2 separate regions of the Homo sapiens genome follow, and region 2 is linked to region 1. Evidence: fine-mapped expression QTL. Tissue or cell type: monocytes after Pam3CSK4. Region 1 holds a variant in brackets; the other region holds the start of a gene. All regions are shown on one strand. Distances are from middle to middle.

What was found. PIP is the estimated chance that this variant, and not a neighbour inherited with it, causes the effect.
Region 2: ACMSD starts here. The variant in region 1 is fine-mapped to the expression of ACMSD in monocytes after Pam3CSK4 (Quach 2016, PIP 0.95).

The regions. Positions count from the first base shown.
Region 1 is chr2:134,901,218-134,906,601 of GRCh38, reverse strand. ACMSD (aminocarboxymuconate semialdehyde decarboxylase) reads right to left here. Exons shown (of 10, transcript NM_138326.3): 10 at 4,568-4,804. The coding sequence ends at 4,742. The region is part of intron 1 of CCNT2-AS1 (CCNT2 antisense RNA 1); the gene reads left to right. Among named protein-coding and RNA genes, the nearest start is that of CCNT2-AS1, 15 kb to the left of the region's middle. The variant T/C (reference allele first, on the strand shown) is at 3,314.
Region 2 is chr2:134,836,210-134,841,593 of GRCh38, reverse strand. It overlaps ACMSD (aminocarboxymuconate semialdehyde decarboxylase), which reads right to left and starts at 2,978. Exons shown (of 10, transcript NM_138326.3): 1 at 2,855-2,978. The coding sequence starts at 2,911.

The DNA.
Region 1 (5,384 bases):
TTTTCTATTGATTTGTTGCTTACTTGATACATGTCTCCCTAACTAGATTATAAGCACAACTGAGGGCAGGAACCATGATTGCTTTTTTCATACTCTCAGAATCTAGCATGGTTCTTGGCCCATCATAAGTCCTGAATAAATTTTGTTGAATGCATGAGTGAATGAAGACTTAGGTCATCCCTCAAGAAAGTCCAGTCTAGAAGGCAGATAGGAATCACAACTCAAAATGAGAGGTGTGCTCTGTTAGAGATAGCAGTACATTTTTTTTTTTGTTTTCGGTTTTTTGAAGGGGGAGTTACTGAGCGATGAAATCCCAAAGCCTAGAAACCAGCACTTTAGGTCCTGAGGAATTTTAACAGAGAAAGTAATATAATCAAATACATACTTTGGACATTTTTATCTGGCACCAAGGTAGAAGATGGGTTGTACCAGACTAAGCCAAGGGGCAGGGGTACAAATAAGGGATTATTTCAATATCCTGCTGAGAGATGAAGACCTGAATTTAGTTGGAAGCCATATGGAGGAAAGAACAGATAAGAAATAAAAGATATAAAATGAGTTGAATCTTTTGGATTTAATGGTGTATTGATACGGGTGAAGGAGAAGGATTAGGTGACTGGGTGATGCCATTCATCAGGTTGGGACTGTAAGAAGTGGAATTAAATTTTGGGATAAAGGGATTGAGTTATATCTGAGGCATATGGTTCTATTGAATACCGTAGTATTGTAGCTTTGATTTTGTGTGTGTGTGTGTATGCCTAATGCTGTTAGGACTTCTTGAAACATTGTCTGCTCTTGACTCCTGAGTATATTTTCCTGGTTTTCCTCCTACCTCACTGGCTACTCTTCTGTGCACAAAGCTGGTGCCTTCATCTAACTTTTTTTTTTTTTTTTTTGAGACAGAGTCTCGCTCTGTCACCCAGGCTGGAGTGCAGTGGCACGATCTCGGCTCACTGCAACCTCCGCCTCACGGGTTCAAGTGATTCTCCTGCCTCAGCTTCCCGATTAGCTGGGATTACAGGCACGTGCCACCATGCCCGGGCTAATTTTTGTATAGCCTTCATCTAACTTCTAAGTGTTAGTGAATCCCAGGAAATAGGCCTAGGGTCTTTTGCGTCTCTACTCTACTTTTTCACCAGGTGATTTCATCCAGTCTCATTTCTTTAAATACCTTTTATACACTGGTGATTTTTCCCTAGCCTCTCTCTTGAACTCTCCAGACTAGAACACTCAAGTGCTTACTTGACATTCCTACTTAAATGTCTAAGAGGCATCTGAAATATAACAAGTCCAACTACAGAACTGTTGATTCTCTTTCCTCTCAAGACTGTTTCTCCCATAGTCTTCCTCATTATGGTATATGGTAATAAATCTACCCAGCTGTTCAAGTGAAAAGCCTGGGAATCAAAGCACCTATGTTTAAAGTATGGATGCATTTAACACCATTAACTACTATTAATCATCTCAAACCTTAAATGTCACCAGGAGTATGTGCCCAGGAAAGTCCTAGTTAGAAAACCCTCTTTACACCCAGATTAAAGAGGAATTCTCGCATCTTTTCTTCTAGTACCTGCATAGTTTAATATTTTAGAGTTAAATCTTTGATCCAATCAGAGTTGTAGTTTATCCATATGTATGATTTGGGAAATGAATCAAATTTTATTGCAGTATTATTTATAATTACAAAACATTAGGAATTATTTAAATGTCCAAATATAGGAGACTGATTGACAAAAGCATGGTGTGCACATGTGTACACACACTTCACATTCACATGCCCAGGAGTCAGCCTTGATTTCTTTCCTCCCCTTCCTCCCTCTTCCTCACATTTAGTCCATCATTAAATGCTGTTGGTTCTGCCTACAAACATATCTCATGATCCCCATTCTTGTATTTATGCCTGAGTCACCATCATTTCTTGCCTAGCCTCCAACTTCCTTTCTTGACTCCCTTTAATAGGTCTCTACAAAGCTGTTAATGTATATGGGTTTCTTTTTTCTTTTTTTCCTCCTCTCCTCTCCTCTCTTTTTTCTGAGACAGGGTCTCACTCTGTCACCCAGGCTGGAGTGCAGTGGCATGATCCTAGCTCACTGCAGCCTCGAACTCCTGGGCTTAAGCCATCCTCCCATCCCAGCCTCCTGAGTAGCTGAGATTATAGGAATGAGCCACCACACCCAGCTAATTAAAAAAAAATTTTTTTTTGTAGAGATTGCTGTGTTGCCCAGGCTGGTCTCAGTCTCCTGGCTTCAAGTGATCCTCCTGCCTCAGCCTCTCAAAGTGTTGGGATTACTGTTGCAAGCCACTGCACCCTTCTATTTTTTGTTTGTTTGTTTTAAAAGAATAACATAAGTCCGAGCATGTCACAGACCTATTAAAAAGTCTCCAGTGGTTTCCTATGAAACAAGATAAAAATCTTGGGCAGGCGTGGTGGCTCATGCCTGTAATCCCAGCACTTTGAGAGGCTGAGGCGGGAGGATCACGAGGTCAGGAGATTGAGACCATCCTGGCCAACAGGGTGAAACCCCGACTCTATTAAAAAAAAAAATTAGCTGGACCTGGTGGCGCGTGCCTGTAATCCTAGCTACTCAGGAGGCTGAGGCAGAAGAATCACTTGAACCAGGGAGTCAGAGGTTGCAGTGAGCCGAGATTGCGCCACTGCATTCCAGCCTGGCGACAGGGTAAGATTCTGTCTCAAAAAAAAAAATTATCTGGACCTGGTGGCACGTGCCTGTAATCCTAGCTACTCAGGAGGCTGAGGCAGGAGAATCACTTGAACCAGGGAGTCGGAGGTTGCAGTGAGCCGAGATCGCGCCACTGCATTCCAGCCTGGTGACGGTACGATTCTGCCTCAAACAACAACAACAACAACAACAACAACAACAACAAAAACTCAACCCTTGACCATGATCTACTGATCTAGCCAACTTTTTGGCTTCCTCTCCTGTCTCCCTTCCTTGCTCACAAACTTGTCACGAGGTTTCTTGCCTCAGAACCTTTGCATTTTCTTCACTGTTCTATCATTCAAATCTCAGTTGAAAGTCCTCTTTAAAGAGGCCTTCTCTGACTCTACAATTTAACGTTTTACCCCCCCATCTTTCTCCTAGTCACTACCACATTTTCGTTTTAATTTCTTCATAGTGTTTATCAGTATAAGAAAAATTTCCTTCCTTCTTTCCTCCTTCTGTTCCTCCTTTTATTCCTCTTTTTCTTCTTCCTTACCTTATTTATGTTTCTCACTCTTCAGATTGTAGGTTTTGTCAGAAAAGGAATTTTATCTTTTTTGTTTACATCTATACCCCCAGTGCCTGGAGCA[T/C]TCCTATAGTCCTGGCACATAGAAAACATGTGAATATGAATATATCCATTCACTCTGCATGTGTATGTGTGTGTATGATATTGAATAAAGTGATTGGGTTACTTTTTATAATAAAACAATCATTAAATGCTGTATTCAGAGTGCTCAAATATAGAATATTTGAAAAGGTATGGACTTTATCCCCAAAGATTGGGGAAGGAAAAAATAACATATGGTTCATGTTGTTGCTTTGTTCAACTTTGTTTTCCTTTTTGGGCAGATTGGAGCAATAAGCAGATGGTGGGTGAGTAAAATCCTAGAAAGAAATGGTGGGGGGTGGGGTGAGAAGGAGGTGGGGCAATGAACTATATAAAGTGAAAATAATGGCGTGAGCATAGTGAAGTAAGAATTAGATCTCATCTTTATTCTGGAGAGGGGTCAGCACAAATTACATGTCAATACTCAACTCTTGATTTTCTAGATGAATGGAAGGGAAAATAATGAATGAATCCATGCTTGATTTTGGAATTCAGCCAGAGGCAGATGAACCATAGATTTCATCACCCATCCCAGGACCAAGTTCCTTTTCAGCAGCCCAAGTGGGACCATAAATGAAATGGGTAAAACAAGGCTACCCTGGTATTGCCCTATTAACTTTCCACAGTTAGCTTCATACATTCTGCTCGGTATTTTAAAATCAAAAGAGCTTCTGGTAGGAGTAAATTTATAGACAAAAACTTTTAAAATGGATGTCTCATTCAGTCTGAAACCACAGCTGTGTTCCCATAGTTTTGCCTTCCTGTTTCCCATCCTCTAACCCTAAAAATTCCTTATTCATCTCCTGGACTCTCATGTTCCACCCTCTGTGAAGATCTGCTCCACAGTTTTAGACCAAAGTGAATTCCGCTTAACGAAACTTCTTTGACACTCAAAGTTGATAGCTTAGTAATTATTCCATGAACATCTCTTACCTCCTTAATTGGTCTGGAAGCTCCCTGAGGTTATGGATATCCTATATTCATGTTATTTATTTTGTGGAGGCTAAAGCATTCCCAGCCCAGTTCTGGGCTAATGGTAGGTGTTAAAGGCAGATGGAACAGGTTATTTGAGTCCAATTCACATATCTTTGTTCAAAATGGACAACCTACCTAAGTCTTCTAGGATGAATCTTTCTCCATATAAATCATTAATGACATTTTATTTTGTATTTCTCCAGATTAATTAAAAGAGCACTGGGAAAATCATTTTTTATTTGCACATGAAATAATGTACTGCTTTTCAGAATGAAAACACTTACAAATCATTTTTATTATGAATAATTTAGGATATTTGGGACATTCATTTCTGAGTAAAATAGTTCAAAATAGGATTTTGTTGATACCTGTTGATACATATTTAGAAACAAAAATGAGATATCCTTTTGAAAGTTTGCCTTTGTAGTAAATTCAGTCATTCAAATTGTTTTCTCTCAAGACCCAAAAATGCCAGGGCATTGCCGGCTTTGAGTTTATTCTGAAAAGAAAAGAAAATATTTTAAAGCATTATTGGTTGTTTTTTAAGTACTTTTAAGTACTACATTGATCAGGTTTAAAAAAATCAGCTCCCCAATATGAGAGAAAAATACTAGCAGGTTATACAGTGAATCTCTTACCAAAATCCTCTTGACCTATGTTTTGCCCCGCTGTTTGAAATCTAAATCTGAAACTTGATTGTAGGGGGAGAGAAGAGACTTATAAAGGGGAGAGCCCTCCTTAGGAGGTGCCCTTGTTTGGAAACTGGACCCTCTAACAGCTTGGATCTTAAGGACCATTTGGGGGCAAATACAGAGAAAAGGTACAGTTAGGTCTGTGGGACAAGAGGGCTGCAAAAGGTGCTCAAAAGTCATCTAGCCATCCCCCAGCTGCTAGACATATGTGTTGTTGTTTTCACATGGCCCTAAATAAAAGTTAAGCTTTTTCAGAGCAAGAGAAGTGATATAAATGAAGGGTCTCAGATGAGGGTACAAATCCGTACATCTTAAAATTTTCACATAAGAAATGGACTCCCCAGCTATAAACTATATCAACTCTGCTGAAAGAAGAGATTTAAGAAG
Region 2 (5,384 bases), 65 kb after region 1:
AGTGTGGGTCCTCATTCATCAGAAACAATTTGATCAAGTATCCCTGAATCCATTGTCTTTATACGTCAGATATGTTTTTTTTTCAAGAACCCTACTTGTAACTCTGACTAAAATTATTATTAGCAAGCGAAAATGAAAAGATTTCTCAAATCCCCGTCCATTATCATCATTAATTAAACATCACTTCAGGCGTGTTGATTCTGCTTTTCTGTCTCTTCATTGTGCAAGAAGGTCAAGGTTATTCCAGCAGCAGTACTCTCTTGGGCCAGTTTTCTCAAGATGGGTGTGGTGGTGGGGAGGCTCTTGAGGGACCACGGTGGCCTCTCATAGCTCTGGGATTCTAGGTTCATTTCTGAGTCTCAAGCATCTCATCTGTCAAGTGAATAATATAAATCTTATCTGCATATTTCACAAGGTTTATGTAAATTATTTCTCCCTCTGTCTCTCCCTGGAAGTACGAAGTGTTATGACTATAATGATGGAAATGATGTAGATGGTGATGATGAAGTGTATCAGCTGTCTGCTTGCAGCATATGAGACTACTACATAAGAAGAAACCTGGTTTGGAATGAAAAACCAAACATCATATGTTCTCACTCATAAGTGGTAGCTAAGTTATGAGGATGCAAAGGCATAAGAATGACACGATGGACTTTGGGGACTCGGGGAAAGGGTGGGAAGCAGATGAGGGATAAAAGACTAAAATTGGGTGCAGTGTATACTGCTTGGGTGATGGGTGCACCAAAATCTCACAAATCACCACTAAAGAACTTACTCATGTAACCAAACACCACCTGTTCCCCAATAGCCTATGGAAATAAAAATAAATACATAAAAATAAAAAAAGAAGAAGAAACCTGGTTTATTGGGACAAAATTCCTCTCCCTCTTTAAAGCAATAGCTGGTGATAGAAAGGAGAGGGAGTTTGGAAGCTGGGAAGTCCAAGATCTGGTGAGAACCCGCTTCCTGGTTCTAAGATGGTGCCTTCTTGCTGTGCCCTCACGTGGCAGAAGGGGCGAACAAGCTTCCTTGGGCTTACTTTATAAGGGCACTAATCTCATACATGAGGGCTCTGCTCTCATTACCTAATCACCTCCAGAAGGCTGCATCTCCTAATACCATTGCCTTGTGGATGAGGGTTTCACCTGAATTTTGGGGGGGACATACACATTCAGACTGTAGCTCTCTCTAAGCCTCAAAATCCTGTCTGCACAAGGAGGTGTATGCCCTGGAGCTTGGAGCCCTGCTTGGAGGGTCGATCATGCTAGCTAGCTTTCTCAGTGGGATAGTACAGGGGGGCGTTGTCCTCTAGAGACCACCGTGGTGGTTTCCAAAGCATTTCATGTGGATATTCTTTCATACTCAAATAGAGAAAAAAGCTGTAACAGAGGAATTAGTGGTTTTTTTTTTTTTTTTTTTTTTTTTTGCTAGGTATAGTTTATGGCTATTTTAAAATACCAAATACTAAAATTTGGATTTTTCTAAAACTCTCAGATTAGGGAGTATAATCTATTGCTTCCATTACCTGTATCACAAGTTAGTCAATGTGTTCATTGCATCATTCATCAGGCAAATACTCATAAATGAGGGGTAGAAAGTGGTGGGCGCCATAAGATGTAAGAAACTGCATGCAGCTTCTAAACAAGGCAGATGCACTCCCACAAAGTAACTGGTGCATTCCCTTCATGAAATCATTAACATTGTGAAGTGGTTTACACTTCAGTAAACTATGATGAGGACAACAGCACTCAGAACAGCATGTTCCTGTGTAAACATGTAGAGTCCTTTTAGGAAGAGCAGGTTGAGAGGTTTATCTTTTATCGTTAGCTGTGCATAGGATAGGCTTTCAAAGATTTTGTTTTTCAATCCACAGTTTCTACCACCCCTCTTACCTAAGATACCAATGGACAAAGAAATACTTAAGATAAACATTCTTCAATGAGACAACTATGAGAAGAAAATAGTTTCATCTATTTGCACAATGAACCACATTTAATTCAAGTTTGGGTTAATTCATTTTCCCTCACTTGGGATAAAAAAGTTGAAACATTATCGGTGGTGTGAAAGTACTGGCAGAATGCTGAAGATTGGGTAAAACCTGATATTAAGCCTGAACAAACCTCTAGCCAATTTTACATTTCTTTCATGTTCCTCACCTTCCTCTTTTTATATTCATTCAAAAGTTCTTAATGACAAAAGGAAATTTCCATCTTTAGAGAAACACAAAGAATACTCTCTTAGGAGATGTCACTGTGCAAAAGCTTCATGTCATTTATTCTCGGGTTTTTTGATGTACCTACTTCCTAGTTCTTCAGGACAAAGATTTATAGAATAAAGAACATCAAACAGTAAAGGTTTCAGGCAGTGTCCTAAAATAGACTAAAAAAATTCACAAAGCTATCTCTTGGTGCTTCTAAAACTTATTTTAAACATTTTGGAAAGGAGATATATTTTAGAAGTCCTTGAAACCGATCACATTCCATTTTTAATGGTCTTCTACTTAAAATTGTAACTTTAAATTCTGTAGTTGGCATGTATCTTCCCAGCAGCTGAATATGTGATTTTTGAAAAGGTAAATCTGCCTTATTTAAATTGTCCAGATATTTTAAAGAATGGTTCATTTGAGGGAAAAAAGGGTTTCTGAGAAAGCACTTATTTCTTTAATCCAATGTTATTTCAAAATAAATATAAAAGTCATTTTTAAAAGCTAGAAAATCAGAACTACCAAATGATTTAACCCCCTCGCCCCCCACCAAAGCAGATAAACTAGACATCTAATTCCACAAAGAAGAGAAAGGCATTGAGAAACCCTGGAGAAGTTTCAGAAATAATTCAGCAAATTAATTACCATTACCTTTTTTAGATCTGGCCATTCTTTTGGTAGAATATGACTATGGATGTCAATTTTCATCTCCACAGGATCAGAGAAGCATGCAAGGAAAGAAGTTTTGATATCAAGAGACCTTTGTGAAAACTGTGGAGTTAATTGATTTACTTAGTCCCTTTACAGCAACCTTCAGGCAGCAGTCAGTAGGCCTGCCCAACCCAGTCTAGGTCCATTAGAACTGCTTTATTAAAGTTCAAAGTTCTGTTTATTTGTTAACCAAGCTTTGGTTAACCAAGCTTTATTTGTTAATCAAGCTTTGGGTCAACACAGTTTGGTAGTCAGGACTCTTGGCACAAAACTTAAAAAAACAAAAACAAAAACAAAAACAAAAAAACAACTGTACTCAACTGTATGAGGTCAAAAGCACAGCAGGATGCTTTGACTTACAGCAGGTCAAAAATTGACTGATTTTTCATTTTAAATATTTTAACTTAGTTGTACATAGTTAATAATTAAATAGTTTGTAGTTAAAAATAAAACCATGCAGAGGGCTTTTACAGAAAAAGGATAGATCCCTGACTCACCTTTTCTTACTTTTCCTTGCACTATTCAGAAGCAGCCAGTTTTTATGATTTTGCTTTTTGTTCAGTTAGTTACTCCCATATCTTTAAATAATATTTAACAGTTGTCTTGTTCATGAAAATTTAACGTGTTGAAAAGTTATGGGGAGGTTTCACATTTTAAATCACAGAAAGAGTCCACTCTTCATATATGTTTTTTCCTCCAGTGCCTTTGTCTTGGACTCATTCATTCATGCATTTTTTTCCTTTTTTTTTTGTTTTTTAATTTGAGATGCGGTCTCACTATATTGCCCAGGCTGGTATGGAATTCCTGGGCTCAAGCAATCCACCCACCTTTGCCTCCCAAAGTGCTGGGATTACAGGCGAGAGCCACTGCACCCAGCTTCATTCATGCATTTAACAAACATTTATGGAGAACTGCTATATGCTGACGATGTAAGGTTGACTGAGAGAAAGATGATACATATCCTAAAGTGTAGGGAAAAGAAGATAGTAGCCATTTCCATTTAGCATTATCAGAGCAGTCAGGGAGGGCTTCCAATATAGCAGAAAGTGGGGCTTATATGGTCATGCCTCTAAAGAGAGCCTGGAACAAAACAGCCCTTGATTGTTCTGTGTTTACCCTTTCCTCTTCCTGAACAGCTTAAAATGTTCAAGGGACCCCAGGTCCCCTGGCAAACCCTTAAACCTGCCTTGGTTGCTGCCTTCAGCTCAGACTCCACAACACATAAATTGAGTAGTCAAAAAGCTTCCTTCTGTAATTCAGCTAGATTCTGGATAAATTATAACAGACAGCTTGAAAGAAAATAAAGGAAATCCTTGAAATCCATTTTTTTAGAAGTTCAGTGAGCTAAAACTGAATGAGTAAGCCTTAAACTAACATGGAGGCACTTGCTAATACTGAGTAAGTAAGTGCAAGCATTTTTAGAGCACTCCCAATGGGCCAGGCACTGGTCCATGAATTTTAATAAAGTCGGTTCACTTATTACTCATAACATTCCTGTGGGGGAAGAACTAGGACCAATATTCATTTTATAGAAGAGGAAACTGAAGCACGGAGAAGTACCTTGTTCATGGTTACACAATAGTGTGTGGGAGAACTGGAATTAGAATCCAGAAAATGTGGCTTCAGACTCCTAGAGATTTCAGGGTTAATATCCCACAAGGGAATGGGAGATAATAATATGGGCTTGTACAAAACTGAAATGCCCTCATTACACTAAAAGTCTTGAAGGATCTAGACCCTCAGGGAAAAAGTAGTCTAGGAAAAAAATCCATTGGCCAAAAAGAGGGAGTCTGTAATGAAACCTGTCTTCACTATGAGGGGAAAAAAAGAGAAGAAATAACAATTTTCTCTGAGAATTTCTTTGAGAATTACTATTCAAGGTCACCCACTAAGATTTTAGTTAAAGTACCACTCACCTACTTCCTCCCACCCTGTCTTAGTCAATTTAGTGTTGCTTTAATAGAATACCTGAGTCTGGATAATTTATAAAGAAAAGAAACTCATTTGGCTCACAGTTCTGCTGGCTGGAAAGTCCAAGAACATTGCACCAGGAGCTGTTTGGCTTCTGGTGAGGGCCACATGCTGAGGTACAACATGGTAGAAAAGCAGAAAGGTATGCAGATGTGTGCAAAGAGGGACAGGACAAAGGAGGCTAATGAGTTTTATAACAACCCACTCTTGGAAGAACTAATCTATTTCTATGAGAATTAATCCAACCTCAAGAACTAAACCAGGCTTGTGAAAAACCCATCTTAACAGCCTAATCACCTCTTAAAAACACCACCTCCCAATGCTGCTACATTGGCAATTATATGTTAACATGTTTTGGTAGGGAGAAATTACATCCAAACCCTAGTACTACTTTTGACCAGAAAAAGGAAATGTAAATCCTCCCTGAAGAAAAACATCCCAATTCTGTCTCCTCAGTATTGCCACAGATTAAGCACCCCCAACAAAGTATTGTCTCACA